Linked DNA regions of Homo sapiens. The protein of the gene in region 3 interacts with the protein of the main gene of each other region in a biochemical or structural test. Each region holds a gene or a part of one and is shown on either strand. Other genes may lie near its edges.

Region 1 (4,055 bases), on a different chromosome or scaffold from region 3:
TTTCAAAATGAAAGAGAGGGAAGGATGGAGAGATAAGAAAAGACAGGTTACTTAGTCCCTCACAGTTTGCCCAGAGACTGTGAAGCTAAATTTGCAATTTTATTGGGAAAGGGAAAGCATATGCCACTGAAGGTGAAGTTTTTTTTTCCTTATGCAGCAGAAGTTTATGTTTCAAAAGAAAAAACAAATGGAACACAATGAAAACAAATCATTTGCCTTGAAATTTTAAGAAAAAAACACATGTAGAATTATAGAATTTTATAGCTAGATATAAGTCTAAGTCACTCAAAAGGCAGATAAAATAAATAAGTGTTGGAGAGTTTGAGGCTTATTTAATCACATAACAAATTAATTAGCTGGTTGAAAACCTGGAGGGGAATCCAGTTGCCTTGGTTCAGTGTGCTTATAAAATTATAATCTCTAGCTCAATGAGAGCATTGAGCACAGAGCAGGTATTTTCAAAAAATACCTGTTGAATGAATTCATGCTAGGTAATATAATAAAAAAAATACATGAAAGGCATAAGTGCAGTAGAGAGATGAATTTAGACACAGATTTATTTTTCCCCAAGACTCTTTTTTTTTTTTTTTTTTTGAGACGGAGTCTTGTTCTGTCGCCCAAGCTGAAGTGCAGTGGCACCATCTCGGCTCACTGCAGCCTCCGCCTCCTGGGTTCAAGCGATTCTCCTGCCTCAGCCTCTCAAGTAACTGGGATTACAGTCGCCCGTCACCATGCCTGGCTAATTTTTGTATTTTTAGTAGAGACAGGGTTTCATCATGTTAGCCAGGCTGGTCTCAAACTCCTGGCCTCAGGTGATGTGCCTGCCTCAGCCTCCCAAAGTGCTGGGATTACAGGCATGAGACACTGCGCCTGGGCTTCCCCAGGAAATTTGAGTCTTGTATACACTTCTTTATGCCACTTCCACATATTAGAAAAAAAAAACATATTTTGTGAAATTACTCTGGCAATTATCAACGCCTGAAGAAACAGAATGAAGTGGTAAACTCTAAAAGACTGTAGGATACCCTTTCCCGGAAACAATTGAGTACAATTAGCTCTTTATAAAGTAGTTAAGGGACATTGCTACTTCCTCACTGAAAGATAGATTGATGATATTTAACAACTGCTTCAGGCCCTATGAATTTAAGATAAACTTGGAAGACTGAATTTTCACCAAATGCTTACAAATAAAACATGGGAACATCAGATCCTCTGGTGATTTCTGGAGTCCTTGTGGTTTCTGGGTGGGATGTGGAAGAACAACTGACATAGCTCCATCAAGAGTCCATGGTTTTAGTTCCAAAACATCAAGGGGCCATAAAAAAGATATTGGACCTACTGCAGATACATAATGAACAACATAAACTCAACTTGCAGAATATGAACATCTCAGAAGCTTTCTATTAATTTTCTATTATGGCTCTGTGGCCCTTGAGACCATATACAACTCAAGGACTTTTTTATCTCTAGCCCTCTGGCATGTCCACTCATTTAATGTAGAAACACTGTAGCAAGTTAGGATCTTATTTAATGTATCTCCATCTCAATACATCCCATAAATGTATTACCTGGCTTCCCCCAAAACTGCCTAGCAAACAAAATAGCCCGATGTCTACAAGTAGCAACATACTGAAAAATCAACATATGATTTATATTACTTTTTTATCCATGCTCTAGTTTTAAAAATTATTCATTGAAATTTACATATAAACTTACTTTAAAGCAACTAAAACATAGATTATAGTAGACATCGCAGCAAAAATTTAGAAAACCCCTAATTGAACAGATAGTTATACATCCTTCAGCTCAAAAGAGAAAACACAATTAATTCATTCTGTCTCATCCTTACTCCACCTCCCTGTTTGGTCACCACCCTCACGTATGGGGAACATACCTGCTTTTTCACTCCTGTTAATGCAAGTTTTCCTAATACCTGAAATGTAATAGTCTAATAGTTGTGTACGCAGATAAGGCCTATTAATAAAAGGAAAAATAAAATAGTGTTCAATAGTAAAGCCCTAGAAAATTAAGGTGTCTGAAGTTAGACTATCACTATGTTTTGTAAAATGTGTTATGAGTAATAATTTCAAAGAGGTATATAATGCAAATTTATGGCTGAGTTAGAATTCAGCTCTGAGGTAAAAATTCACTTATAAGGAAAATAAAAATGTCAAAAATCTCTGGTAGTATAATATAAAGCTGACTAGCAGCAATACATCTGAAAATGTATGATTTAGATTTGCTGAATTTTTAAAACATCAATTAAGAAAGATCTCAACATAAAAAATAAAACTACTACAGTCTATGGTCTGTTAGTTTTTAGAAGTATATTTACATTAGTTTTTAGAAATATATTTGTGTTTATGACTAATATATCTTAAGATAATATTCAGGAGGACAATTTTGTATATTATTTGAACTACAAAACAGAAATATATGAGAAACATTTTACTATTTGGGAGAAAACAATGGAATTGTGTCTATTAAAATGGGTTAAACATGAGCATGATAAATACTGATACTTCAAACTTGTGGGTAAAATTTTCTGGAAATCCATTTTTGAATAAAAGAATTCAATTCATATCACTTATGCTGTTGGATAAAGATTTTATGGATAAATTTTTCAAAATAGTTTATGAACCTCAACTAAAAACAAAGGTATGCCAACAGATGTAGCCAGTGAGCATCTGTCTCTCCACACAGAGAGTATACTTAACCTGCTCCATGCAAATTCCTTCCTAGACTCTCTATCCTCATCACACATTAGTCTCACAGCCACAAAACTGAAAGAGCACCATCCATTTAGAATTTATTAATAATCTCGGACACCAATGAAAAGGGGCTTTTGTAATTAGGAAAAGTAAATAAGCCCCTGGAAATACAATTACCCTAACAAGTACTGGCTTCACATAGGTCAAAATACAATAATTTTAGTTATTATACAACGAGATATAGTCCTGGAATATTCATGGGATAAGGAAAAATGAGGGAGAGTTCTAGTAACCATAATATTAAATCTTTATTGTTCAGCAAAGGTCAAGTTTTCCCTCTGCCTTGAAGTTAAAAGAAAAGACCTAAGAATATTCTGGGTCCTCACTATGACACCGATCATGGATTCCATGTCTCAGGATGGGGCTTTAGGTGAGATAAAGAACTGAAACTACCTCCATGGGTAGCTGAACCTTCTATGTAATGAAATGGATCCCACACTAGAAGTTGTCTTAACCCAGTGATAGTATAATTACTCTGACTGTATGTACTCTACCTTTCAATACATTCACCTGTATGCCAAATCTTCCAGTAAATAGTCTCTCTAATGTTCTTCAAACACACCATGCCTTTTCCTCCCTCTCTGCTTTTGTTCCAGCCCACCCTGCATGAAATCATTCCCAGGAGTCTCTGTCCAAGCTCCAGTGCTACTACCAAATATAATATTTTCCCAGCTACACAGACACCCGTCTTCTTCCCAATTCCTCTAGTACTTACTTGCGCTTCTGTCTTTCTAGTACATAATCATATATGGTCTTGGAATGTGTTTAAGTGATTTCTCCTAATTATAATAATGTTTACTTAATACATGTTTTGTTTGTACCAAGTACTGAGCTAAACACATTTAACCTTTAAAGCAAGCCCATGAATCAGAGTCCCTTACAATTTTCATTTTATAGATGAAAAAACAGATTTAAATTGTACACAAGGACATGATCCTCCTAAGAACTAGAGCCTGTACTCACATCTAAAGCTGTCTCCAAAGATCTTGTTACTTGCCACTGTGAAATAGGACCTCATGCAAATGCCTGTTCTCCTCAACTAGACTGTAAGCTGAGGTCAAAGAGAGTGTCTTTTACTTCTTTCTACTTTCTTGGAATGCCTCACACCACTCAGCCTAGGGTTAGGCAGGTGTTAAGAGCTCTGAGGGAGGGAGACACAGAGAATATATCCGGAATACATTTTACAGGGGTCCATAAGATCTTCTATTGGCTCTTTATTGTATCAAGTATTTTTAAAGGTCCAGTCAACTAAAGACAGAAGCCTCTAGAAATGAAATTCTTCAG
Region 2 (3,613 bases), on a different chromosome or scaffold from region 3:
CATCCCGGCGTTTAATTTGTGCGGCAAAGCAGTTATAGGGCCTATAGAAATGTGGTCTGTGGATAGTGGCCCACAATAATGAAAAGAGAAGCAAAAGCTTTAACAATGACTCAACCAAGCAACTTCTCTAAAATGTAAGATGATACCAAATAATAGGACAGTTCTTTGCCAAGCCTTTGAGTTCCTGAATTCTACCAATTTCTAGCTGAACTAGAAGAGATACAGGTTTTCTGATAAACGTATAATCAGAACATAAAGGAAATGAAATGCTGTCAAGTTTCTCTGTTCCACAATCATCAGTTTTTAGTAGCTGTATCGTATCTTGGTTCCTTGACAGATGCGCATAACAAAATGAAATAATGTCAAGACTTGTGAGCTCTTATCTCAAAACGTGTTTGGGTGAAAAAGGACTTCAAATGTAATTTTTTTTCCCCAAAGAAGAATGTGAAAAGTTTTGTTTGAATCTTTAAAACAGAAAATGTAGCAACTATCTGAGGCTGACACGTGTCACCTGGGTCTCTTAGTCATACGATTCTGGATCTATTTTATAAAACCTTGCTCTGAATATATTGGTGGGTGCTGTCAACAAAGTTATCACTGGAGATAATGGGATTCACGTACAAAAAAGAAAGTGCTGAGACACCTGCCTACATATTAAGTGTACTTTCTTTTTCTCTCACTTCTTGCACACTTGTTACTCCAGAAATATCATTACATATAACACACAATGTACTAAAATGTCACTTAAGGAGAAAATAAATTGTCCAATAATGCTGGAATGCCACCAGAAGAAATCTGAGGCTATTTCCATTATAATGCAAGTGTTCAAAAGTAAGACTTTTCAGGGGATAATTTCATATCATCTCCCTCTCCCACTTTTTTAAGCTAGCCATATTTTGTGTGGTTATAGATTTATGTACTCCAAAAAGGCTATTCTGTAGTGAAACTAAAAACAGCCAAAAGAACAAATAGACATTCACATCACTTTCTACTGCTTGATAGCCTTCCCCAAATAGGCTGCTTCCTTCTGTGTAACCCTCTTGATGTATTTTTTTAAATATATATAAAGAAAGTGTTGTTATTAGCAACTTTAAACCCAAATGGTCTTAGCTTCATGGTCTGAAATACTTAGTCAAAAACAAACTTCCTGTGTATATATTCTTTGATTTGACCTTTCTTTTTCTCTTCTGCTACCAGGTTTTATAACACACTATGGGTAACAGCACAGGTGAGATGAAACATCTTTTTTACAGTGCAGGTGATGAAGGGAGTTGAGATTACTGAACTACTTTTAGCAAAGCCCTCATGTTGTAAGCTATGTCTGGGATAGACAGGTCCAGTCTCAGCTCTCTCCTGGATTCACTGCTGATTCTGGAAAAATTACCTAACCACTCTCTCTACCAGCTGCCTCATCTGTAACATGAGATAACAATAGCTTACGTCACAGGAACTGATTAATGGCTACAAACTACAGGTTGAAAACCTGCTGCATTAGTGTTGGGTGTCATGATGAATGCTGCTCAGAGAAGTGGCCCCTAAGCACACAGAACGTGGAGGTATCGCCCAGCTCGAAGGATGAAGACAAAGCATTTAGGAATCCCTCTGGTGCATCTTTTATCTTTACAGAATCCCAAAGCTGTGGCTGAGACAATTTCAACTGAATGAATATGGTAACCTGGGAGGCAGAAAGGTAGAACTGAAAGATCATAGAAGATGGAGTATGAACACTTTTGAACTGGTGGCTTTGAAAACTTACTCAGGCTGGGCGTGGTGGCTCACACCTGTAATCTCAGCAGTTTGGGAGGCCAAGGCAGGTGGATCACTTGAGGTCAGGAGTTTGAGACCAGCCTGGCCAACATGGTGAAACCCCATCTCTACGAAAAATACAAAAATTAGCCAGGCATGGTGGTGCACGCTTGTAGTCCCAGCTACTCGGGAGGCTGAGGCAGGAGAATCACTTGAACCCAGGAGGCAGAGATTGCAGTGAGCCGAGACTGCAACACTACACTCCAGCCTGGGTGACAGAGTGAGAGACTGTCTCAAAAAAAAAAAAAAAAAAAAAAGTTACTCAGCTTCTTGTACTTTAGCATTTTCATGTGTCAAAAGGGGATAATAACAGCAGTTCAGAAGGACTGTGAAGCTTAAGGGAGACAATGCCATAAGCGTTCACGTTTGCGGCAAGAAGAGTATCAGGTCAGTGAGTATGGGAAACCTTGTCCCTCTTTTCCTTCTTCTCTTGAGTTTGCTCCATTATAGTTCCTCTAATGTAGGTTGAAACTAAGTTCATATTTAAACTCTAACTCATCAGTAAAGCCACCGTAACAGAGCTAGATTTTACTAAAATCAACAGAGCAATACAAGCTCCCGCACGTGGACAAAGGAGAGCAACTGGGCTTTGATTGACATTGCATTCCTAAGATACCATCTGATGTGTTGAATTCAGGCTCAAGACCCTGTCAGTTCATTTTTACTGATGTGTATGGCCCTAATTCAATCACAGTAACTCTCAAGGCCTCAAGTTCATCATTTTTAAAGCCAGTCTAATTTTGGTGTACATAATTGGCATGCATATTGTCAAAGAGTAATGGAGACTTAGAAAGGACTTCTGCTTTTAATATAATGGAGTAATGAATTTCCTCTCCTTTTCCTTTCAGAAACCACTCTGAACATCAAAGATATTCATTAATAAAAAATAAGCTAAATCTTTGTGAAATCAGGAGAGCCTGAATGGTAAAATATCATGAAGGGCTGCCATATGCAACTGGAACCAATGGGGCTGTGGCAAGGCTGAGAAGATGTCTATGAAGAGCAAGCCTCAACAATCATAGGAATTCTCCAGTTAATTGGAGGAGCGCTAAGGTATGTCAATAAAGAATCAATTAGAAACATCTTTGACTGACCTATGTACATTGGTGAGGTCCTGACAGAAGACAGATTGCAATTGCCCAATTCTGTAAGCTAAGGAGGAAGAAAGGCAAAACATGCACTCTCAATTTCACATACACACACACACCCACACACACCCACACCACACACCCCCACACCCCCCACACACCCCCACACACACCCATACACACACACCCACACACACACACACCCCCACACCCCCACACACACCCCCACACACACCCACATACGCCCACCCCCCACACACACCCACACCCACACACCCATACACACACCCACACCCCCACACACACCCACACCCCACACACACCCTCCCACCCCCACACACATACCCCCACCACACACCCATACACACCCACATCCCCTGACACCCACACACACACCCACACACCCACACACCCATACACATACACACTCACATCCCTCCCTGCATCCCCCCCACCACACACGCAGCCTCTCTGGGTCATAAAGTACTTCTACATTAAGCACAGAAAATTCCCTTTAGCCAGAAACAAGGCCCTAGCCACAACTATCCTGTAACTATCTGGTCTAGGAAGAGTTCGTTTTAGTCATAGGTGAGGAGTAGGAATAATAAAAATTATTATTATAATTTTAAGAGTAGTACAGGGCCTGGAGATTATACAAATAAGAAATGAAGTAAGATAAACACATGACAAATGTTGAGCACATAGAGTTTATGAATATA
Region 3 (4,055 bases):
CATGCCCAGCCTACAATAGCTTCCTAACTAGTCTCTATACCTTTAGGCTTTCCCCTCTCCAATCCAACCTCCATACCAGTGATCCTTCTAAAATGTTAACTTGGTCACAACACCTTGCTGCTTAAACTCTCAATGGATCTGCTGGATTTTCATAATCCAGGCCCTCTATACTTAACAGCCCCTTTTCTGGCCACACTCAACCTACATCAGACATGATTAAGACTCCTACTTTTGGAGAAATGCTTCTCCCTCTGCCCTGAACACAATTCCCTCTCCTCTTCATCTAATAAGGTTGTAGAACAGACCTTAGCTCCTCCTGACTTCCCAAACTCTAGTATCTTTCACCTGCTGTGCAAGCACTAGCCTAGTGTCCAACACATGGTAGATACACAATCAATATTTACATGGTAAGCGGCCAGAGGTACGACATTACTGGTATTAGATAGACACAGACTCTTTCTCCATCTGGTCTCTGGCCTGAATCTAGGATAGGGTCTTAACTTCTTTTGGGCCATGGACCACATTTTCTCCATTCATTCTCTCGACTGACAAAATAATAATCAATCAACTCCTACTATATGCCAGGTACTCTTCCAAGCCCTGGGCATGCAGCACTGAATAAGACAGCAAGTTTCTTCTGGAATTTACATTCTAGTGGAGGGGATAGAAGATAAACAACTAATACACATAATCAAGCCAGATGATTTCAAAGAGCAAACATGACCTGAAACCTGACACCTGAAAGGTGAGTGATTCTTGCCTTAAGTATCGGGTAGGAAGTAGCCTGGGCAGAGAGAACAGTAAGTGCCAAGGCCCAGGTACGGTTACAGCATAGTGGGGTCCAGGAGAAAGATATGAGATGAGAATAAAGGGAGTTCTGCATGAGACTTTGGAGGTCTAAGCCCTCTGAGGCCCATTTACAGACTCTGCTCAAGAACCCCTGCTGAAGGGTTCTCAAAATACTTACTCTTTCACTTGCACAGTGGTGGCGTAGTTGGAGCAGGCACTCTCCACGGACACGGAGAAGCCCCGCCTGCCTTCAGTGGTGGCCGGCATGGAGATGAGCGTGACAGAGTAGGGCAGCTGCTCCTGAACAGACTCTGTGGAGAGTCTCTCAAACATGGGTGCCAGCACCACCTCATTGTGGCACTTCCCACTGGGGAGAGGGCACAGGGGGGAATAAGATGCTAGAGTCCCACACAGAAGCCCCCCAGCAACCACTGCACCATGTGGCTTTAAGCAACAGTACCCATAGTCTCACTACCACCCTCTTTGTCATGATTCTAGCTGGCTGCTCAGAATGAGGAGCCTGGGTTCTCAGGGTGGGCTGGGACTGGGGGTGCTGAGCTAGATCTGCAGCAAGTGGTATATTTGGAAAAACACTGGCCTGGGTTGGGGTGAGATGGTCTGGGTTCTCTTCACTCTACCTTTGACTCACAATGAGAACCTTGCCCTTGTACTATTCTATTCCATGGGCCCCAGGCTGACTTCTTTTATCAACCAAGGTGGTTGGACAGGGTGAGCTCTAAGGGGTCTTTGACTTTAATGTTCTGGGATCGTCCTTGAAGAGTGCCTCCCACTGGGAGGATTGCAGGGCAGAGTGAAGACATTTTCAAGGTTGGTAAGGAAAAAGGGTAGAGACATGTGTAAATCATTCTGCTTACAAGTTAAAGAGCTGGTTAAGAGCACTGCTGTGGTAAGAATCCAATGCTCTGACTACCCTAACACTCCTTCTGCCCAACTCACCCTGCCACTGTCCCTCCCCGCCAGCCACTCTTATATGGGAGAGGATAGACAAAGGACCACTATCTTACCAGTAGAGGGTGGCATGCTGCACCAGTGCATATGCATCCCCATCCTCAATGATCACCTTGCAGCTCATACAGGCAAAGCACTCTGGGTGGTACTTGAACTCCCCAGCCACCTGTGAGCAGGTGGGGAGAAGGGTGTACAAAGGGAGGAAGGAAGTGAGTTATCACTGTTGCTGGAGTGAGGACAGGGGTGGGTGAATGACCTCCAAGCAAGGCCCCCGTCAAAATCCACTCTTTCACTCTCTGCCCTAGAGCTTCCAAAGGAAGTGTCAGATTGGTACCTCCTGTCATTTCTGAGACTGCACAAAACTGTTTTGGTCTCAGTTATGAGAAGAAATCCCCAGAAGTAATCATCCCCACTAAAAAAGATCAGTTCTTCCAATACAGGGTTGGCAAGTCTGTCACTATGCTTAAAGTCGTTTGTCCAGAGCAGGTATAGGAGGTAGCCCCTCTCTCTGCCAGCCTATTCCAGAGTCTCCTTTTCTGATTCCCTAAAGACAACCTAAGTATATCCTCCTCTCAGCCTGTAACACTCTCCTTGGAGGTCCTTATCCAACTATATTGTGTCTCCTCTCTGCCTGCCTCTCCTCCCACTCCCAACGTTCAACTATTAAGTCTTTGAGGGAAGGATCTTACCTTTCACTTAGTAGGTGCTCAATTGATACCTGCTAGTTGAATGAATGAATAAATAAAGGGAGATGCCCTGGCTGATGGAAAGACTAAAAGATTAACAGGCCACAGGGAACTGGAAGCACTGTCAATGGACTCTGAAGACCAAGAGGGGCAGATATGAAGGGATTCACTCACCATAAAAGGCCCTGTCATCAGCAGGGAGCACCCATGACAGAACTCCCCAAACTTCCCCCAGTAGTCCTTGGGGCAGTAGAGCTTCCCATCCTTCTCATAGTACCAGTTGGTGAGGGAATCCTGGCATTCTGAACACCTGAAAGGCAAGACAAGAACTGAAATTCTCCTGGATCCCTGGAACCAGGCCACATAAGCTGTCCCTGGTTCCTAGGTATGACAACAAAATGGACAGTCCTCTTTGATCCAAAGCCAAGATGGGGCAAAGTTACAGCCTTGTGCTATCTCCCCAAGGGAAGCTGGTTCAGACTGAACAAGGCCCCAGAAACCAGCTCTGTGTTGCCTGCCTCAGTGGACAGACTAGTGTTTCATAACCTCTTTGGGTCTTGGGGCCCTCTGAGAATTTGATAAAAGCCAAGAAGCCTCCCCTAGAAAAATGAATATATAAAGAAGATGTGTATATAATTTAGGTGGGGGACAGGGTGTATATATAAAGGATTCTCTGAAACCTATTTATGGCACCAGTTAAGGATCTCTGGTCTTGACAGATACTTCAATGAACAAAAGCAGTTTAATCATCTCCACTCTTCAAAACTGACCCATCACCAACAGCGTTACCAATGTAATGTTCTTGCCAAAAATACGTTAAGTATAAAAAAACTAATCAGGCAAATCTAGAATGTGGGTTATTCTATAAGAATAACCGGTCTTGACTCTTCTAAAAAGTCATGGGGAGAAGAAAAGGCACAGATTTTAAAAACCCTAGAGACACAGCAACCAAATACAATGCCTCAAACTTGGATTCAAATTTAGATTAAAAAAGGAAACAGCCATGAACATTTTTTGGAACAACTGAGGAAATATGGATTTGGACTATAATATTATATTGTAAAATTGCCGTGAATTTTCTTAGATGTAATGATATCTGACTTATATAGGAGAATTCTTAGCAGAAACATATTGAACTGTTCAAGGGTAAAATCAAGATGCCTTTAAGTTACTCTGAAATAGTTCAGCAAAAATAAATAAATAAAAGTATACAGATAGAGGGAGAGAGATATATACAAAGTGGCATAACATTAACAAATCATGAATCTATGTGAAAGGTATGTAGGTGTTCTTTGAACTACATTTTCAACTTTTCTATATATTTGAATTTTTTTTCAAAATAAAATATTGGGGAAGAAACCCAACATTCTATTAGCACTGTGTAAGATGTACATGTTAGATCCATAGCTCGCTGGGCGGGGTGGCTGATGCCTCTAATCCCAGCACTTTGGGAGGCTGAGGTGGGAGGATCACTTGAGCCCAGGAGTTCAAGACCAGCCTGGGCAACATAGTAAGACCCCGTCTCTAAAAAAAAAAAAAAAAAAAAAAAAAAAAAAAAAATCTATAGCTCCCTTCTCCCCTAATGACCTGGCTATGAAGCTCCACCTCTCA
Region 4 (3,497 bases), on a different chromosome or scaffold from region 3:
GTAGAGGCGGAGAGGAGCCAAGAAACTAAAGGTGAAAAATACACTGGAACTCTGGGGCAAGACATGTCTATGGTAGCTGAGCCAAACACGTAGGATTTCCGTTTTAAGGTTCACATGGAAAAGGTTATAGCTTTGCCTTGAGATTGACTCATTAAAATCAGAGACTGTAACACTTTTGCCTTACGTTCATTTTATCAAGCATAGCTTGGTATTTATTATGCTTGTGTGATCTAACATCAGTTAGCATCCCACACCTCCTCATCTGATCCTGCCCCATTAAAATAACCAAGAAAGAGGTTATCTGTTCTTTTCCGGGAAAGGGGTGGTATGCACCTGAAATAGATTTTACCAAAAGAGAGATTTCAGGTATGTCATTTTTTCTTGATTTCCTGTGAACTTAGTATTATACCCTACTTTCAATTCGGTAGTGATGTTTCCTTTTTTTTTTTTCTATCTGCCCCTCACGCTGTGGGGTGAAACCGTGAATAACTTAACTGGGGGAATAAGTCACTTGTGAAAGGGAAATGTTGAAAAATTTTTAGAACACTCAGACATGCAATTTAAGAAAATTCTGAATTTTATTACTAAGGTCTTATTCTGTACTTTATTGTGTTTTGGGTTTCTAGAGGCAAATGAAGGTTAAAGCATAAAAAGTGAATCCAAAACAAAAGCACTATCAAGCATACTCAAAAGGCATTTGTTAATGGTATTTATTCTAGCAACCACAACATTGTTACAAAAGCACAATTTTAATAGGCTTATCTGCTAAGATGCTTTTATAAGCAGCTGTCACCTATACAGAGTTATGAATCATCTTTGGTGCTCAAGGAACCTGTAGAAGTAAGAGACATCATCATACAGAGAAATGTAGTTAAGTTAAGTTGAAGCTTGGAAAAGATCACATGAAAAAAATCTAGCTCTTGCCTTATCTCTTCCTAAGTTAAGCATAAATTAGCCGTCTGCAATAGCCGCCTGTAAGACAAATGATAACAGAAGACAATCACACATGGTGAATGGTTTCCAGTGGAGTTTTTCTTCTAAAGAGACAGTAAACAGGTCACAACTCATTCCTTGAGAAAGGATTCCTATTAAATACCCAGAAACAGCTATCAAATAAACAGCCAAAGCTATTACTTGTTTTCATCACATCTCTGTATCTTCAGAATTGGAAGAAGAATGTGAGGCTGTACTGTGGGCCTGTGTATAAGAAAACAAAGAATTTACAAATGGTAGAGTAATGAAAGAGGGATGATCTATTCTAGAGTTGCATGACTTAAGTCGGGGAGTAGAGTCACTCACTAGAATTTCTTTCTTTCACAGCATGCAGTTGACAGCAATTGTGTAGAGCTGATAAATCAAGTAAAAAGTTTATCAGTATTGTAATGGGAACCCCCAGAAGAGCCTGAATCAGATGATCTGGGTATGACTAGAAGTCAGGTGACCTGAATTCTACACTTGATTGTTTTCAACTTGCTGTTTGACACATTAACAAATTCCTTAATGTCTGTGTATATTTCTTTTTTATAAGACTAGGATATTGACTTCCTAAAGAGAAATTACAGAATTTTTAAATGACAACTAATACAACTAATAGTATTTATTAAGCATTCCTGAATACAAATCAGTGGGCATTGTGTGTGTTCATTAAACTGAGTTTATTAAAATGAATATTCCACCCATTAGCAGAATTAATATAATGGAAAGAAGAACAACATTGAATTAAACTTTTTTAGAGTCTCGGCTTTGCTATAAATTTCCTTTATGAACTTGGATAAGTCAGTTTACTTTTCGACCTCAAGTTCATCTATGAAAAATTGGGCAAAAATATAAAACTGAGACTTACCAAGAAATTTAATCCAAATATATAGAGAATAATATAGAGAATGCTTAATCTTTCCTAGTAATAAAACTGGATTACCTGTCAGTTGTTTTAAACAATATTGTCTTTAACCGTCACCACTTACATGCTCACTATGAGCCAGCCACTATTCAAAGCACTTTAATATAGTTAATCTTAGTTAACATGATCCTGATAACAATCCTACAAATTATTCCTGTTTTATGGGTGGGAAAACTGAGGAACAGAACAAATAAATCCATTTCCCCACAGCTGACAAATGACAGAACCAGAATTCATATCTAGATCATCCGATTCAGGCTCTTTTGGGGGTTCCCATTACAATACTGATAAACTTTTTACTTCTTGATTTATTAGCTCTAGACAGTTGCTGTCAGCTGCATGCTATGAAAGTAAGAAATTTGTTGTTCTTATACTGCCTCCTGTCCTCTACAATAACTTGATTTGTTAGTTATCTTTACATTTTCATTTTCTAGTTTTAAAAAAATCTGTGGCAAACATAGACATTAAATATACTCATAGGGACTGTACCCATACTCTAGTAAATTAGATCACGAAAAGAAATAGGCCCCCACTCACCCGTTCTTTTGCCATGTGCGAGTCATGGTTTGACTCCACCACTATTCCTTCTTTAGAATCTGGAGGGGTGTCAAGTGGATCAGCCAGGGAGGAAACAATAGGGATTTTCTTAGCTTGGAAATAATCATAGGCCTTCTTTCCACAGACTAGAAGTGTGACATTCTTCCCACTGCTCTGGATTCTATCCACCACCTTCTCATAGGGTTCATCTAGCACATTCACCCCATTCACTTCAATGATGACATCCTCATCCTCTAGCCCAGCCAAGTCAGCAGGACCGCCCTTCTGTACCTGTGAACAGAAGTTCTGAGTTATCAATTTCAAACAGAGAAGGGGACATCAGACTAGCTCTCCTTAAGAGAATAGATGAGGAGCTCAAGAATTTATTTTTAATCATGTTATTATTTCTCCTTGAGGTATAGAAGTTGAGAAAGGTGTTCTAATGCTTTTATATTTATGAAGGCTATAACTTCCATATTCACATGATTAGTGGTATTATAAATAGTGGTTCAGCATCATATGTCTTCTGGGATGAAGGGGGATAAATAGGTCCCCCTTCTTCACTCCCAACTTGAAAGCTTTAGGGATTCTTATCAGTCCCTACAGGGTAAGGGGCATTATGCCAAATGCACAGAAGCAAACAAATATGACTGCCAATCAGGGTTGATAGTGACTGTCAACTAGAGTTCAGTCAACTCACACTGTTTGGAACAGATGTTTGGGAAACAAACAAACGTGAGCTTATGATGTACTGGTAGCTAACCTAAAGGGTGTGGGACCATGACAACATTTATCTGAACCCAAGTGAGACCCCTCAGTGTGTGCCTTCAATGGAACCTCTCTACTAAGCCATCAATGGGTGGGAAAAGCTGAGACTATCCTAATTGTGGCTGTGTTTGTTGGGCTGCTGGAACCAGATTACCATACCTCTTTGATGAATGAGCCTGGCAGACCCCGAATCGCATTTAAGTGAAAGCCATAGCCATTTTCACCTTTAGCCAGCCTGCAGAGTTTAGGCTTATGATCTACTTCCTCTGTAGTATCTGGTGGACTTGAGACT
Region 5 (4,736 bases), about 19 Mb from region 3:
TCTCAAAGACACCTCAGCACTGGCCACGCTGTGATCAGGCCAAGAGCCGGGCAGAGGCAGTCTGTCTAGTCCTGATGCCTGCCCCAGAGCACAGAAGGTGATCCCTGACTCACCAGGTGAGGGGCCTGCAGATGGGCCAGCGCTGGCCACCATCACTCTCTGAGGTGAAAGGGTCACGGCCAGCACAGGCATTTACCTTCTCAGGGCCCCTCCCCACCTTTCCTGAGAGGTTTCCAGCTGGTAACCACTAGCAACTGGGATGCTGCCTCAGGCAGGACTCATGCACCCTCAGCACCCTGGTGCTGCACCCAGCAGCTCCAGACAGGATGTCCAGATCCAGGCCAAGACAAGCTATCCGCCAATCCTAATCCCCAACCCAAGAGACCCTGCATCCCGCCCTGAAGTCCTAGCCTGACAGAACAGAGAGGATCCTCTACCCACTCAGAAGTGCCTGTTGTGTCTGTGCCTAGAGAGTTCACACACCTGCTGCTCAGTCACTAATGAAAGAAACTCATCATTTCCAGGGCCTCCTGTGTGCTACTGCTTCACACCTGTGCATTCGCTGCATCCTCACGGCAGCCTGGGAGGTTAGCATGACTCACTCCATCCCCAGATGAGGAAACTGAGGCACAGAGAGCCAAACAACTGGCTCGAAGTCACAAGGCTATCAAGGGGCAAAGCAGAGACAAGTGACCCCCACGCCACACTCCTCTGCTTCTTCCCCCAGCTCCCACCGGCCCTGGTACCTGGCTCTGCCCTCAGCCCATGACCAGGGTCCCAGTCTATAGCCTTGTTCCCCTCAAGAATGAACAAGTCCTTCTAAGGGGTGCCTGGGGCTGCAAGGCCAGCAAGCAGCTGACCAGCTCAACCCCAGAAGGTAGTGGGTACAGGGCTCCACGGTCCTCCAACCCTACTGCAGTGGACCACTTATCACTCCTTCCGGTCACTTAGGGGAAGGGGGGGCACCTTGGGCTCCAGCCTTCTACCCTGTCCTGCGCAAAGGACACACACAAACAGGTGCCTGCACTACGTGTGGCTCCAGCAGTGAGCACACACGTCACAGCCAGCTTGTTGTGGAGCCCACTCTGCCTCTTCTCTCTGCCTACCTTCAACTCCTCACCCCACGGCCACCACGCCTCCCACCTGGCCTTTGCCTGCAGTCTCTACCAACCCAAACCCTCTCCACACTGCCCTCAGGATCATCAGGGTCATTATCAGCTGTTCCTGTAGCCCCCGCCCCAGCCCTCAGCCCAAGGCCCCTCACGCCAAGACAGCCCTCAGCCAGCCTTGCTTCCCTGGATCCTCAGGCACCCTCTGCCCCAGGTGGTAAGGCCTCCTCCATGCCCCTCATAGGTGCCTCGGTGCAGACAGCTCCCTCTGTGGGTCAAGACAACATTGACAGCCAACCTGCACAGTGGGGATGAGGACTATGTGGTCCTAGCAAGCGAGAACTCCCTCTCTAAAGAAAAAGACAGATGCTCATGACTGACGGTGCCATAAGACACACACTTGGATAGACATGAGCAGAGAGGAGTGTGTGCTGAGTAAGAGGGCACTGAGGAGGGGCTGGAGACGAAGAAGATGCTAAAGAGGCTTCAGGAAGTGTAGGGGGGTGTCCAGCAGAAGAAACACAAAAAAGAGAGAACTCCAGGTCCTTGGTGGGGACAGTGACAACTGGACTGACAAAAAACAGGGTAACTGGGAAGGCAAGCTCAATCCCACCTCCAGGCTCAAGATCCAGCCCCTGCCTGACCACACAGCCATCCCCACACACTGCCAGTCTGCAGCTGGGATCTGACAGCCTGAGTGCCAGTCCCAGCCTCTCTGAGCCGGCTCAGGCCAGGCAGTCAGCTTATCCGCGCCTAACTTCTCTACAGATGGGGGCAACACCAGGGCAACCCCGGTGGGCTGCTGGGAGGAAGAGGTGAGATCATGTACACAAAGGGCTGTGCGGGGCCTGGCACACCAAGCACGCTCGCCAACGCTGCTGTCTCCAGGCTGTTGCTGATGTCATCGTCAGGCTCCGTTTTCTCCTACCTCCTGGGCTGAAGAGCTCTCAGACACGGGCGCTGACCCCACACACAGACCTCCTGGGCATGGGCACCGACCGCCACGCTGATACCCCACCCAGGGCTTGGCGTGCAGGGCCTGGACCGTCAGGCGAGTCGCCAGGAATGCTCTTCTCTCTACTCTCGACGCTTCCTCCTCAAATCCTCCCAGTTTCAAATCAAACACCGCTTCTCCATGCACCAAACCCGAACTCCACCCCCTCTTTGCACCCCGCCAAGACCGCCGGGGGCTTCAGACGGAGCACCAAGGTCAGAGGCGGGCTGGCGAGCCGCGGGTCCGCGCCCCTGGAGCCACTAGAGCCACAGCCGCCCGCAGCTGGCCAAGGAGAGAGCCCGTCCCACCCCAAGGAGGCCGGGCAGGCCGGGCCCAGCCTTCTCTCCCTGCCGCCACCAGGCCCGCGCGGCCACGCCGCCCCCAGCGGACGCCCATTCTCCCCACGGGCTGTCCGGTCGGCCCTGGCCTTCAGTCCCCGCCCGGCCCCCGGCCCCGGCCCTCAGTCCTCGGCTCCCCCGACCCCGGCCCTCAGCGCCCAGCCCCCGGTCCTCGGCCCTCAGCGCCCGGCCCTCAGTCCTCGGCCTCCCGACCCAGCCCCCAGCCCTCGGCCCCCAGCCCCCGGCCCTCGACCCTCAGACCCAGCCCCTGGCCCTCAGCACTCGACCCTCGGCCCCCGGCCCTCAGCGCTTGGCCTCGGCACTCACCGCGCGGGTGCGGCCCGAACGCCACCAGCACGAAGTAGTCCGCGAGCCGCGCCATGGCGAGGGACGCGGGGCGGCCCGAGGGGCGCGGGCGGGCTCCGCGGCTCGGGGACTCGAGGACGGCGCGCTCATGGCCCGGCCCCGGCCCTGGACCGCGCACCCCGGACACCCCTGGTTCGCTCCGCGGCGGCGGCGGCGGCGGCGGCGGCGGCCCAGGTTCCCGCCGCCATCTTCCCAGCCAGCCGGCCCGCCCGGGCGCGCCGTGCGCCTGCGCGCTGTCGTCAAGCCCTGAGCGGGCGGGGCCTGCAACCGCGCATCTCCATTGGTCCAGAGGGTGGGAGGGCGGCTCCCGAGAGCAGCGCCCCGCCCATCGCTGACCACTCTGGGGCCCGAGCACCGCCCCTCGGGCCGGGCACCTGGACTACGGCTCCGGCGGGTCTGACGCCCTGACCCGGGTCGGCTGTGGTGTCGGCGGGAGGCATGGGCCAGGACCACAGCTGCCCTCGCCGTTGGGACTCCCCGCACAGGAGCCCGAACCCCACCCCTGGGCCGTCCCAATCTGGGGATCGGGTCCCCAGACTCCTCGTCCCCCGCCCCTCTCTGTCCAGCGGGAGAAAGGCGGGAGAAGCCTAGGCGCTGCCTACCGGGCCCCCCAAACTAGAAGTCAGAGGAGGCGCAGGGCCATCACCTCAGGGGCTGCCAGCCTGGCGATGGGGAACAGAGAGAGAATTCAGGCCCTGCCCTTGGGGTCCCAGGCTGAAGAGCCCCCATCTAGGCCAAGTGAGACATTTAACACAGCTTAAAAACGGCACGCTCATGTCCCCCTGTAAAGAGCAAATGTTCTAAGCGTGTGAGGCACATGAGGCCACGGAGCAGGGGGCTCTGGGAAAGCTGCATCCCCCAGGATCCCTGACAGTGCCCACCCCTCTCAAGGGCAGGGCTGGCCAGGGCCACCCCTGAAGTGGCTCAGGGATGAGCATGAGCCCAGAGCAGAACATGCTGGGAGAGAAGGTGCAGGAGCCAGCCTGGTGCAGCAGGGAAACCCCTCTGAGCACAGCAGGCCAAGGTCTGTTTTTTGTTATGTTTTGTTTTGTTTTTGAGGCAGAGTCTCAATCCGTCACCCAGGCTGAAGTGCAGTGACACCATCTTGGCTCACTGGAACGTCCGTCTCCTGGGTTCAAGCAATTCTCCCGCCTCAGCTTCCCGCGTAGCTGGGATTACAGGTGTGCACCACCATGCCCGGCTAATTTTTGTATTTTAGTAGAGAGGGGGTTTCACCATGTTGGCCAGGCTGGTCTTGAACTCCTGACCTCAGGCCATCCACCCACCATGGCGTCCCAAAGTGCTGGGATTACAGGCATGAGCCACCGCCCCCAGCCCGAAGGTCTGTTTTTTGTTTTTTGTTTGTTTTTGTTTGTTTGTTTTGAGACAGAGTCTCGCTCTGTCGCCCAGGCTGGAGTACAGTGGCGTGATCTTGGCTCACTGCAAACTCCGCCTCCCAGGTTCACATCATTCTCCTGCCTCAGCCTCCCGAGTAGCTGGGACTACAAGCACCTGCCACCACGCCCAGCTAATTTTTTGTATTTTTAGTAGCGACAGGGTTTCACTGTGTTAGCCAGGATGGTCTCGATCTCCTGACCTCGTGATCCGCCCATCTCGGCCTCCCAAAGTGCTGGCATTACAGGTGTGAGCCACCGCGCCTGGCCCTGAAGGTCTGTTTTTAAATGAGTTTGGCTGCTGCAAGAACTGGCCAAATGACTGGCATCCAGTCTCCATCCATGGGCAGGAGCCAGCCCAAGAGAATGAATGGAATCAAACTGAGAGGCCCCACCAGGGTCCCCTCCCTGCCCTCAGGCACAGGCCACGCTACGCCTCTCCTCTCCCACTGTTGGTTTTCACAGGTTGAGAAATCATCTTTTTAAAATTTAATTTTTTTGTAGAGACAGGGTCTTGATAAGTTACCTAGGCTTG
Region 6 (4,055 bases), on a different chromosome or scaffold from region 3:
GGAGGATCACTTGAGTCTCACTCGAGACTGCGGTGAGCTATGATCAGGCCACTGCACTCCAGCCCGGTCAAAAGAGTGAGACTCCATCTCTAAAAAAAAGAAGACAGAGGGTGAAGAATAACATTGCAATACCTTATGACCCTGTGTAGCACTATGTAGCATCTATGGTACTGTCCTTCATTTTTTCAATCAATGGTTGTTCATAGAACACCTGCTCTCTGCCAGAAAATTGTTCTAGGTGCCTCGAGAATACATCGGAACAAAAGGCAAGGTCTCTACCTTCCTGGAGTTTATATTCTAGTTGGAGAAAATAATGAAGAAGTCATTACATAAATAAGGTAACTACAGGTTGTGCCAAAGGCTGGGAAGAAAATAAGTGGGGAAATGTGGGAGAAAGTAGTAGGAGTGGGACTCCATTGGAGGGTGGTCAGGGCAGGCCTATCTGAGCCAGTGAGAGCCACAGGAGAGAGGGAGCCAGTCTTGCCTGGAGCTGGGTGAGGGTCAGTGCAGCAGCTCTGTATCTGTAAGAGGTAGGGTAGTTCTGTGTATGAGAATGCAGACTCTGGGGCCACACCACCTGGATTTGAATACTTGCCCCTTGGCTAACTAAATATATTCCACTATCAGGTTATTTAATCTTCTGAACTTCAGTTTTTTCATCTGTAAACTAGGGATAATAACAGTACCTCCTTGAGAGGGTTGTTGGATAACTGAATGAGTCGATACATGTAAAGTACTTAGAATAGTGCCAGTTATGTAGTAAGCACCAAATAAAAGTTCAATTGAGGGTGAGAGAAGGAGGAAACTGTTCCAGGCTGAAGGAACAGCAAATGCTAAGGCCTGGAGGCCTGAAGGGGCTTGGTGCATGTACAACTAGACAGTCTGTGTGCACAGGTATTATCCTCACAGTTATCGGGGAGACTCAAGAGCAGGCTCTCTGCCCCTTCAATACAGAATTATATATTTTAGGAATTTTGAAGAAATGACCACCCACAGCACTTTTCACTTGCAGGATCAGGCCGAGTGGTGTGGTGAGCTGCTGCTGCTGCTGCTCCTGCTACAACTTCGGGGACATTGCACAGTAGACCCTTCTTTAGGATCTCTTTCCCTCCCTCCTTCCCTGCCCCCGGAGGTGCTCATTGATGCATAAAGGGAAAGCAAGAGTGGAGCTGAGCCCCTGGTGCCACCAGCCCTGGTACCAAAATACTGGCTGTGCCCGCTTGCTGCGGGGTACCCTTCAGCCATCATCCCCTCCTCCTCCCAAGCTGGAAACTACAGCAGGGGAGGCTAATTGTCTGTGCCTTCTCCCTTGTTCCCTCCTTACTGAAATCTACTCAGTAAGGACCAAGTGACCTTGCCCTGTAAAGTAACAGTGACCAAGCCCTGTTATTTTTACTTCCAAAATCTCTCTCAAATATGCCCCCATCTTTCCATTCTCTCTGAGCATCAGGCTTCAGTGCTCTGTACTGTAAAGTGTGGCTCTGATCTCATCATGCTCCTCCTTAGAGCCTTTCAGTGGGTCTTCCCTGTATGGATACTGAAGTCCCGAGTCCTCAGCCCAGCAGGCATGATGGGCTACCTCCATCCTTTCTCTCACACCCCCTCCTCTGCACCATGTCCCCACTCTTTTTTTTTTTTTTTTTTTTTTTTTGAGATGGAGTCTTGCTCTGTTGCCCAGGCTGGAGTGCAGTGGTGCGATCTCGGCTCACTGCAACCTCTGCCTCCCGGGTTCAAGCAATTGCCCTGCCGCAGCCTCCTGAGTACCTGGGACTACAGGCACCTGCCACCATGCCCGGCTAATTTTTGTATTTTTTCGTAGAGACGGGGTTTCACCATATTGACCAGGCTGGTCTCGAACTCCTGACCTTGTGATCCACCCGCCTCGGCCTCCCAAAGTGCTGAGATTACAGGCATGAGTCCCCGTGCCCAGCCTCCCAACTCTTAATCCCCCTAGCCTCAGGTCTCTAGGCCTTTGCTCCCCCGTCTAGCCCCTCTGTCTAGCATGTGCTTTAGCCTTGGTGGTCCTGCCTATGCCTGAAGGCTAAGCTCAAATCCTACCACCCTTAGGAAGCTGTCTTCCAGATCCCCTCATCCCAGGGATTTCACTGTTCCCTGATACTTGGTACCTCTCATGGAGAAGTCATTACTGTCAGCCTTGAAGGATTTTGTGTGCGGTCACTTGTGTATGTGGCCACAGCTCATAGAAAGCCCTTGGGAGGGCCGGCACAATGTCCTTCATCTTTCTACCCCACAACCCTTTTCACAGAGCCTAGCCCTAATGCAAGCTTGATAATGGTCTGTATCGGATTGACAAAAGCCTGTGATTTTCCCGATATCTGAAATGGTTTGAGTCAAGCCAGAAACATGAGGCTGATGCTTAGGGGTTGCATATGGTTGTCAGCTGAACTCACTCGTGGCATTCTGATCCCTCAAGATGTAGCTCCTTCATTTGATGATGGGTTGATGCAACCTCTAAGATGAGTCTGAGTTTTGAATTTAGCTTTTCAGTGTGCCTATTTTAAAGGAATATACTGTGTAAAATTTGAACCTTGAAGCTTTTGACAATCATTCTTTATATTATAAAAGCGTTCCTTACTGTAAAAAAGATCAGTATAGAAAGCTTTCAAACACCAAATATACCTATGCACTTAACACCAATCAATGTATAAAATTTTGGTTTATCCACAGCTATTGTAGTTGTACTTTTACTGTATCCTGAGATATACACTAAACTTAATATATGTTCATGGAAGCAGTACTAACAGTGGATTAAATTTGTTTTGGTAATTACAGATTACATTATACAGGTTTGCAAATCTGAGACTTTTTTTTTTTCAGTTAACTATCTGCCTGAAGGACAGTGGGAAGCCGGACTAGGTGCTTGGCAGATTGATATGAGGGCAGAAGCCATTATTTTCATTAAGTGACACAGTGTTTTCAGGAACTCATCTGATGTTTAGAGACCTTTTTGCCAGCAGTTAGAAGTGGTTTGGGCCACCAATCCTTTCCCAAGCTGGCTGCTAAATGGTATGTGGCCTTAATATTAGTTGTTTTGGTGAAAAAGAAAAAAAAAAACACTAATTACAAGTTGGAAAAGATAAGATGGTAAATTTAAAAGTTCTTTTGACCTCTTTCAAGGAATGATCTGAGAACCTCAGCTGCTTCAGTAAAAGGGTGATATGGCAAAATTTCAAAATCCTGAATGGAAAGAGCTTCAGAGGAATTCATCTGGATGCAACAGTGCATCATTCTCTGAGATTTTTGACTTAAGAGAAGACAGATGTGCAGGCAGCTGAGAAATGCTGTGCTTCCTGTTCTTTGAGTATCTAGAATATAGGGTGTAGGCTACAGCTTGTATTAAAACCAACGATAACAATCCCACCTCCCCTGCCAGTTGAAACCCCTGTCTGATGCTGACTTGTAACTATTCACATGTGAAGCTTCTGAGTTACTGCTTTGTTGTTTTCTTTGCTCCAATGTAGAATTCAGAAGGATGCAAAAGGAAAAACAATTATTAAAGACGAGGATGGCATTTATTCGTTCTTATAAAAATAATTTATTTAGTAGCTGCAGTCTCTGTTCTCTCTGGCTTTCCCTGGAAAAAGACACCACTCCAGACTGTCCAGGGCTCCCCTGGTACCTGTGAATGTGCTGTTAGTTCCTGGTCTGGTTAGAAGATGATGTCTCTGTGGAGATACATACTTGGCCTCTTTCTTTCTCCCTGGGGTGAGGGACATTTTATGTATAGGAGATGGAAGAATAGACGGTCTCTTTCTCAAGCTCATTCCTGGTTATTTTCAGTACTTAGCTCTTTGCAAAAACTGCGTAATAAGTGTCTTAGTGAGAGTGTGCCTTGTTTATGTGCTGAAAACCTAGATTCACACATATGTTTCCAGATATTTTAGCTACCAGCATAGACCCTCAAACAAGACTGCCAGCTCCGGAGATGATCAAGTACAGCCTTTGTGTGGTGCAGGAATTCCCCTAGCATACCCAGCCTCCCTCTGCTTGGACCTACCAACCCCCACCACCTTCCTATTCCATCCTCAGTTGGC
Region 7 (4,055 bases), on a different chromosome or scaffold from region 3:
TATCTCTCATTTATGGAGAGAACAGAGAGCCTTCTACCTTGTAATTATCTGTGTAAACCTGAGCCTCTACCCCTTTCAAGGTCCACACAAATGTTACTTCTTTTCCAAAGTATTTAACGATCTGCTCTGTTCTTCCAGCCCACACGACCAACCAAAGTAAAAAAAAAAAAAAAAAATCCTCTCCTCTTCTCTCCTTCTAACCTGCCAAAACACTATTAATCCTTTCTTTCCATTGCATTGATCCACTTCTTACCTATTATTTATGCTTACACTATCCCCATTGCTAGGATATAATATCACCAAGAGCAAAGCACATCTCCTATATCTCTGAATTCTCCACCACACAGTCAAAAGGTGCAGTAACTTACTATGTCAGCAGATGCTCAACAAAAAAATACTTAAAAATCATTACTTAACGCATTACATTAAAAACAAACAAACAAACAAAAAACACTGAGATCTCCATGTGAGTAAAGTTTAGTTTAGGAAACCATAAAAACCTTGTTAATTGAGCCTCTGGCAATAGTTTTTTTAATGCTATAATAAATTATGGAATTTAAAATCAGTTTGTCCTTTTCATTCTTACCTAGCTCCTGAGGAGCCAATATTTGCATTATTTGTTGTTACTGTTGTTAAATTTTAATACATCTAATTTAGTCTCAACTTCTACTAAAAATTGAATCTAAAAATAAGTTAAATTTCCTTAGAGATGATGGAAGACACTGATGTCAAACAGGCCTGTGAAGAGTCTGAATAAATGTTCTTCATGAAATGTGAGAATGGGAAAAAAAGAAATTTTTAAAAATAGCTTATTTTCTATACATGTGATTCTGCATATGTGTTTTAAATTAAATTAAAAATTATAAGAAAAAAGTGACAATAAGTTAAACCTACCAGCTGTCCTGCTTTGTATATCTTTCCATCCCATTCTATTGCTGCATATGTTGCCCAGGGACCTTGCTTTTTAGAAGGAAGATCAGGACGTGTAATTACTCCCTTAAAAAGTGTAAATTTTATTTGTTTATCATACTTCTCATGACAGTCCTTCAGCCACAAAGCAAATTCTCTGTCAATTTTCATTCGCTGTTCCTGTAGAATTTTAAAATGTTTTATGAAATATAGCTACTAGCAAACAAATATAACCATAAACATTTGTCATTCATTTTATTTTTTTCCTTTCATATACTCCAATTCAGAAAACCTAATAAAAAATTAAATATTCTGCTGGATCCTTCCTCTGTACACATTTAGGATATTTCAAACAAATGCATTACCAAAGAAGAAAAATTTGATATTATTCTTAGAACCAAGGTATCCCTGGTCAATATCAACAATAAAACCTTCCTTTCCGCCTTTAATTCCTAGGATACACTAAAAACTGATGAACCCTTACTGCCTGGGAGGAGAACTAGCTAGCTCCACAAAAGGGATGAGTGGAGGCCTTCTAACTGTAAACCACATTCTCAATGGGACGATAAAAATCTCATTGTGTATCAAGTACTTTATAAACGTGAATACAATATACAAACAGATAGATGGTAAATCTGCAGTAGTAAAATTTCATTGGGGAAAACAATTGAGAAAAAGATGCCAAGAAAGACTCCTTATGAGGGTGATAACGAAAAAAGGTTGAGAAACACTGCTATGCAAAATGTACTTTTCTTTTTAATTTTCTCTTTTATATATAGAGCCTATCCAAAAAATAAACTCATAAAACTGAAGTGTTTTCTAATAATACTTAAGAAGATGTGTTTTTGCCAACCATTCTTCACCCTGTTGGGAGAGAATACAGAAATCTGTATTCAAGCATAAGGTGCTATACACTTGTTTGATGCCTGCCTCTAGGGCAATGAGGAGGTAAGACAATCTCCCCATTACATGCTTTCGCAGAGGACAGTCTGTAAAGTTACAGAACTCCATTCCTTCTTACGTACCTTATACCATAATATACCATTTCCAAAGGAAAGTAAGGCAAAATTAAAAATAATTTCAGCCTAAGTTTTTGATGCTTGCTGTCAAGAAGGATACTATCTTAGTTATTAATAAATTTGATTTTTTTAAAGTTATATGAATGAAAAAGGAAATATATATACATGGTAAAGACTCACAGGTCCAATATGGTATACAGTTTCTGGGAAATTGCTGCCACACTTACTCCTATAACTAGGTACCAACTCTTTCCCAAATCAGCAAATCATTGTTGTCAGTTTGCCAGCTGACATGGAGATTAAATTAGTAACTAGGAACCAGAAAGTCTGACAACCAAAATGTTAAACTACCCTTCTAAAACTCTCAGGATGGATTCACTATCAACCAAACAAATTACCAAATGCATTAATTCCAGACACTCAGTAACAGTCAAAGTACAATTCAGAAGGCATGTCAAGGTGACAGGTAACCTAGGGGAAAAGTATGCAGATATTCACTTTATAATATTCTTTCAACTTTTCTGTGTATTTGAACATTTCCTTCTTTTTTTTTTTTTTTTAAATACAGAAGGTGTCTCACTGTATTGCACACGCTGGTCTTGAACTCCTGGCCTCAAGCCATCCTCCTGCCTCAGCCTCTCAAGTAGCCAAGATTACAGGTGTGAACCATTATGCGCAGCTTGAATGTTTCAAAATTAGAAAATATATATTTTAAAAGTACAGTGTAACAAAGGAATAGAATTAACTTATTCTGGATAGCTTTTGAAAACACCCACTGCTCAATAAATGTTGGATAACTAACACCATATTATAAATGAATTCTAAGTGTATTATAAAGGAGTAGTAACTCATTTTGATAAGGTCTTTCTCGGTGTATAATTCTTAAAAGTGTCCTAATCTTCTATGATTCACAAGCTTTATAAGAGCAAAATTAATTTCAACATCTTACAGGACTGACTGACTACAAATACTATGTACTATGCACTGTATTTATTGCCCAGCAATAAATTGATAATAAAATCATCTATTTCTTGGCAATTCAACATTAAACTACTGAAAGAGTAGTATCAAAAGTCTCTGAGGTCTGTTCACAGAATACAAGTACACTAGTATACTAGTTTCACTCAACTTTGTAACAAATTTCAAAGTGAAATCATTCTTGTTGTATTAATCAATACATGTATTTTAATACTGATCAATCTCAAATCACCTTTTAGCTCAAAGTACTTCACAGTTTTACCCCATTTTTACCCTCAAGACTAGCTAAAAATTGCACAACTAGGTTATTAATATACAAATATAGCCCTTAAAGCAAATACAATTGTTCATACATGTTCTCATTAAGATGCTTCTGTGGCTTCTACTATGTCAAGGGCTAGATATTAAGATCTTGGCTGGGTGCGATGGCTCATGCCTGTAATCCCAACATTTTGGGAGACCAAGGCAAGTCGATCACCTGAGGTCAGGAGTTCGAGACCAGCCAGGCCAACATGGTGAAACCCCATCTCTACTAAAAATACAAAAATTAGCCAGGCGTGGTGGCACGCACCTGTAGTCCCAGTTATTTGGGAGGCTGAGGCGGGAGAATAGCTTGAACCTGGGAGGCAGAGGTTGCAGTGAGCTGAGATTGAGCCACTGCAATCCAGCCTGGGAAACAGAGTGAAACTCCTGTCTTAAAAAAAAAAAAACAAAAAAAACTAATGAAGATATGTAAATTCTATCCAAACCTAGTCTTTACTAGGTAGGTTTAGTCATTACTAAAAAATTAGCTTTAAATTTTTTAGTAATGTGAACACTTGACTGCTCATAAAAAAATTTATACATCATAGTCTTTTGATGCAAAATATCAATAAAAACCTACACTGCTAGTGTCTTCTTTTACTTAAAAATAAAACATTTGCAAATATTCACAACTTTATATTTAAAAATCATACCTGTCCATTTAAAATCCTTGTAAAAAGGGTGTTCTTATCTTTCAATTTTAGCTCAAGATCCATAAACGTCAATTTATTTGTGCTGACCTGGAATTTGTCATTAGTGAATAATGCACCAGATATCCTATTGTAGCATTCAATTGGTGCAAGCCCTCTCTTCTTAGGAGGAGTACACCAGTCAAAGCTTGAACAG

Evidence for each region.
Region 1: the proteins of LIMK2 (region 3) and CTNNA2 interact in a test that uses a peptide from one of them, tested with the Homo sapiens proteins (one large-scale study listed by IntAct).
Region 2: the proteins of LIMK2 (region 3) and ABCC4 interact in a test that uses a peptide from one of them, tested with the Homo sapiens proteins (one large-scale study listed by IntAct).
Region 4: the proteins of LIMK2 (region 3) and PDZK1 interact in a test that uses a peptide from one of them, tested with the Homo sapiens proteins (one large-scale study listed by IntAct).
Region 5: the proteins of LIMK2 (region 3) and SBF1 interact in a test that uses a peptide from one of them, tested with the Homo sapiens proteins (one large-scale study listed by IntAct).
Region 6: the proteins of LIMK2 (region 3) and FRMPD1 interact in a test that uses a peptide from one of them, tested with the Homo sapiens proteins (one large-scale study listed by IntAct).
Region 7: the proteins of LIMK2 (region 3) and SMCHD1 interact in a test that uses a peptide from one of them, tested with the Homo sapiens proteins (one large-scale study listed by IntAct).

The regions. Positions count from the first base shown.
Region 1 is NC_000002.12:79,515,768-79,519,822, reverse strand, and holds part of CTNNA2 (catenin alpha-2), read right to left. Parts: intron 1-4,055. UniProt on the Homo sapiens protein: May function as a linker between cadherin adhesion receptors and the cytoskeleton to regulate cell-cell adhesion and differentiation in the nervous system. Required for proper regulation of cortical neuronal migration and neurite growth.
Region 2 is NC_000013.11:95,022,166-95,025,778, forward strand, and holds part of ABCC4 (ATP-binding cassette sub-family C member 4), read right to left. Parts: intron 1-3,613. UniProt on the Homo sapiens protein: ATP-dependent transporter of the ATP-binding cassette (ABC) family that actively extrudes physiological compounds and xenobiotics from cells.
Region 3 is NC_000022.11:31,256,990-31,261,044, reverse strand, and holds part of LIMK2 (LIM domain kinase 2), read right to left. Parts: intron 2,755-4,055; coding exon 2,619-2,754; intron 1,925-2,618; coding exon 1,815-1,924; intron 1,157-1,814; coding exon 968-1,156; intron 1-967. UniProt on the Homo sapiens protein: Serine/threonine-protein kinase that plays an essential role in the regulation of actin filament dynamics. Acts downstream of several Rho family GTPase signal transduction pathways.
Region 4 is NC_000001.11:145,670,293-145,673,789, forward strand, and holds the end of PDZK1 (Na(+)/H(+) exchange regulatory cofactor NHE-RF3), read right to left. Parts: coding exon 3,365-3,497; intron 2,729-3,364; coding exon 2,438-2,728; intron 1,348-2,437; coding exon of another isoform or gene 1,315-1,347; exon of another isoform or gene 1,198-1,314; coding exon 1,144-1,197; 3' UTR 973-1,143; coding exon of another isoform or gene 952-972; 3' UTR 693-951; downstream 1-692. UniProt on the Homo sapiens protein: A scaffold protein that connects plasma membrane proteins and regulatory components, regulating their surface expression in epithelial cells apical domains.
Region 5 is NC_000022.11:50,472,018-50,476,753, forward strand, and holds the start of SBF1 (myotubularin-related protein 5), read right to left. Parts: upstream 3,019-4,736; 5' UTR 2,824-3,018; coding exon 2,769-2,823; intron 1-2,768. UniProt on the Homo sapiens protein: Acts as an adapter for the phosphatase MTMR2 to regulate MTMR2 catalytic activity and subcellular location. Promotes the exchange of GDP to GTP, converting inactive GDP-bound Rab proteins into their active GTP-bound form.
Region 6 is NC_000009.12:37,653,871-37,657,925, forward strand, and holds part of FRMPD1 (FERM and PDZ domain-containing protein 1), read left to right. Parts: intron 1-4,055. UniProt on the Homo sapiens protein: Stabilizes membrane-bound GPSM1, and thereby promotes its interaction with GNAI1.
Region 7 is NC_000018.10:2,700,726-2,704,780, reverse strand, and holds part of SMCHD1 (structural maintenance of chromosomes flexible hinge domain-containing protein 1), read right to left. Parts: intron 4,047-4,055; coding exon 3,863-4,046; intron 1,090-3,862; coding exon 895-1,089; intron 1-894. UniProt on the Homo sapiens protein: Non-canonical member of the structural maintenance of chromosomes (SMC) protein family that plays a key role in epigenetic silencing by regulating chromatin architecture.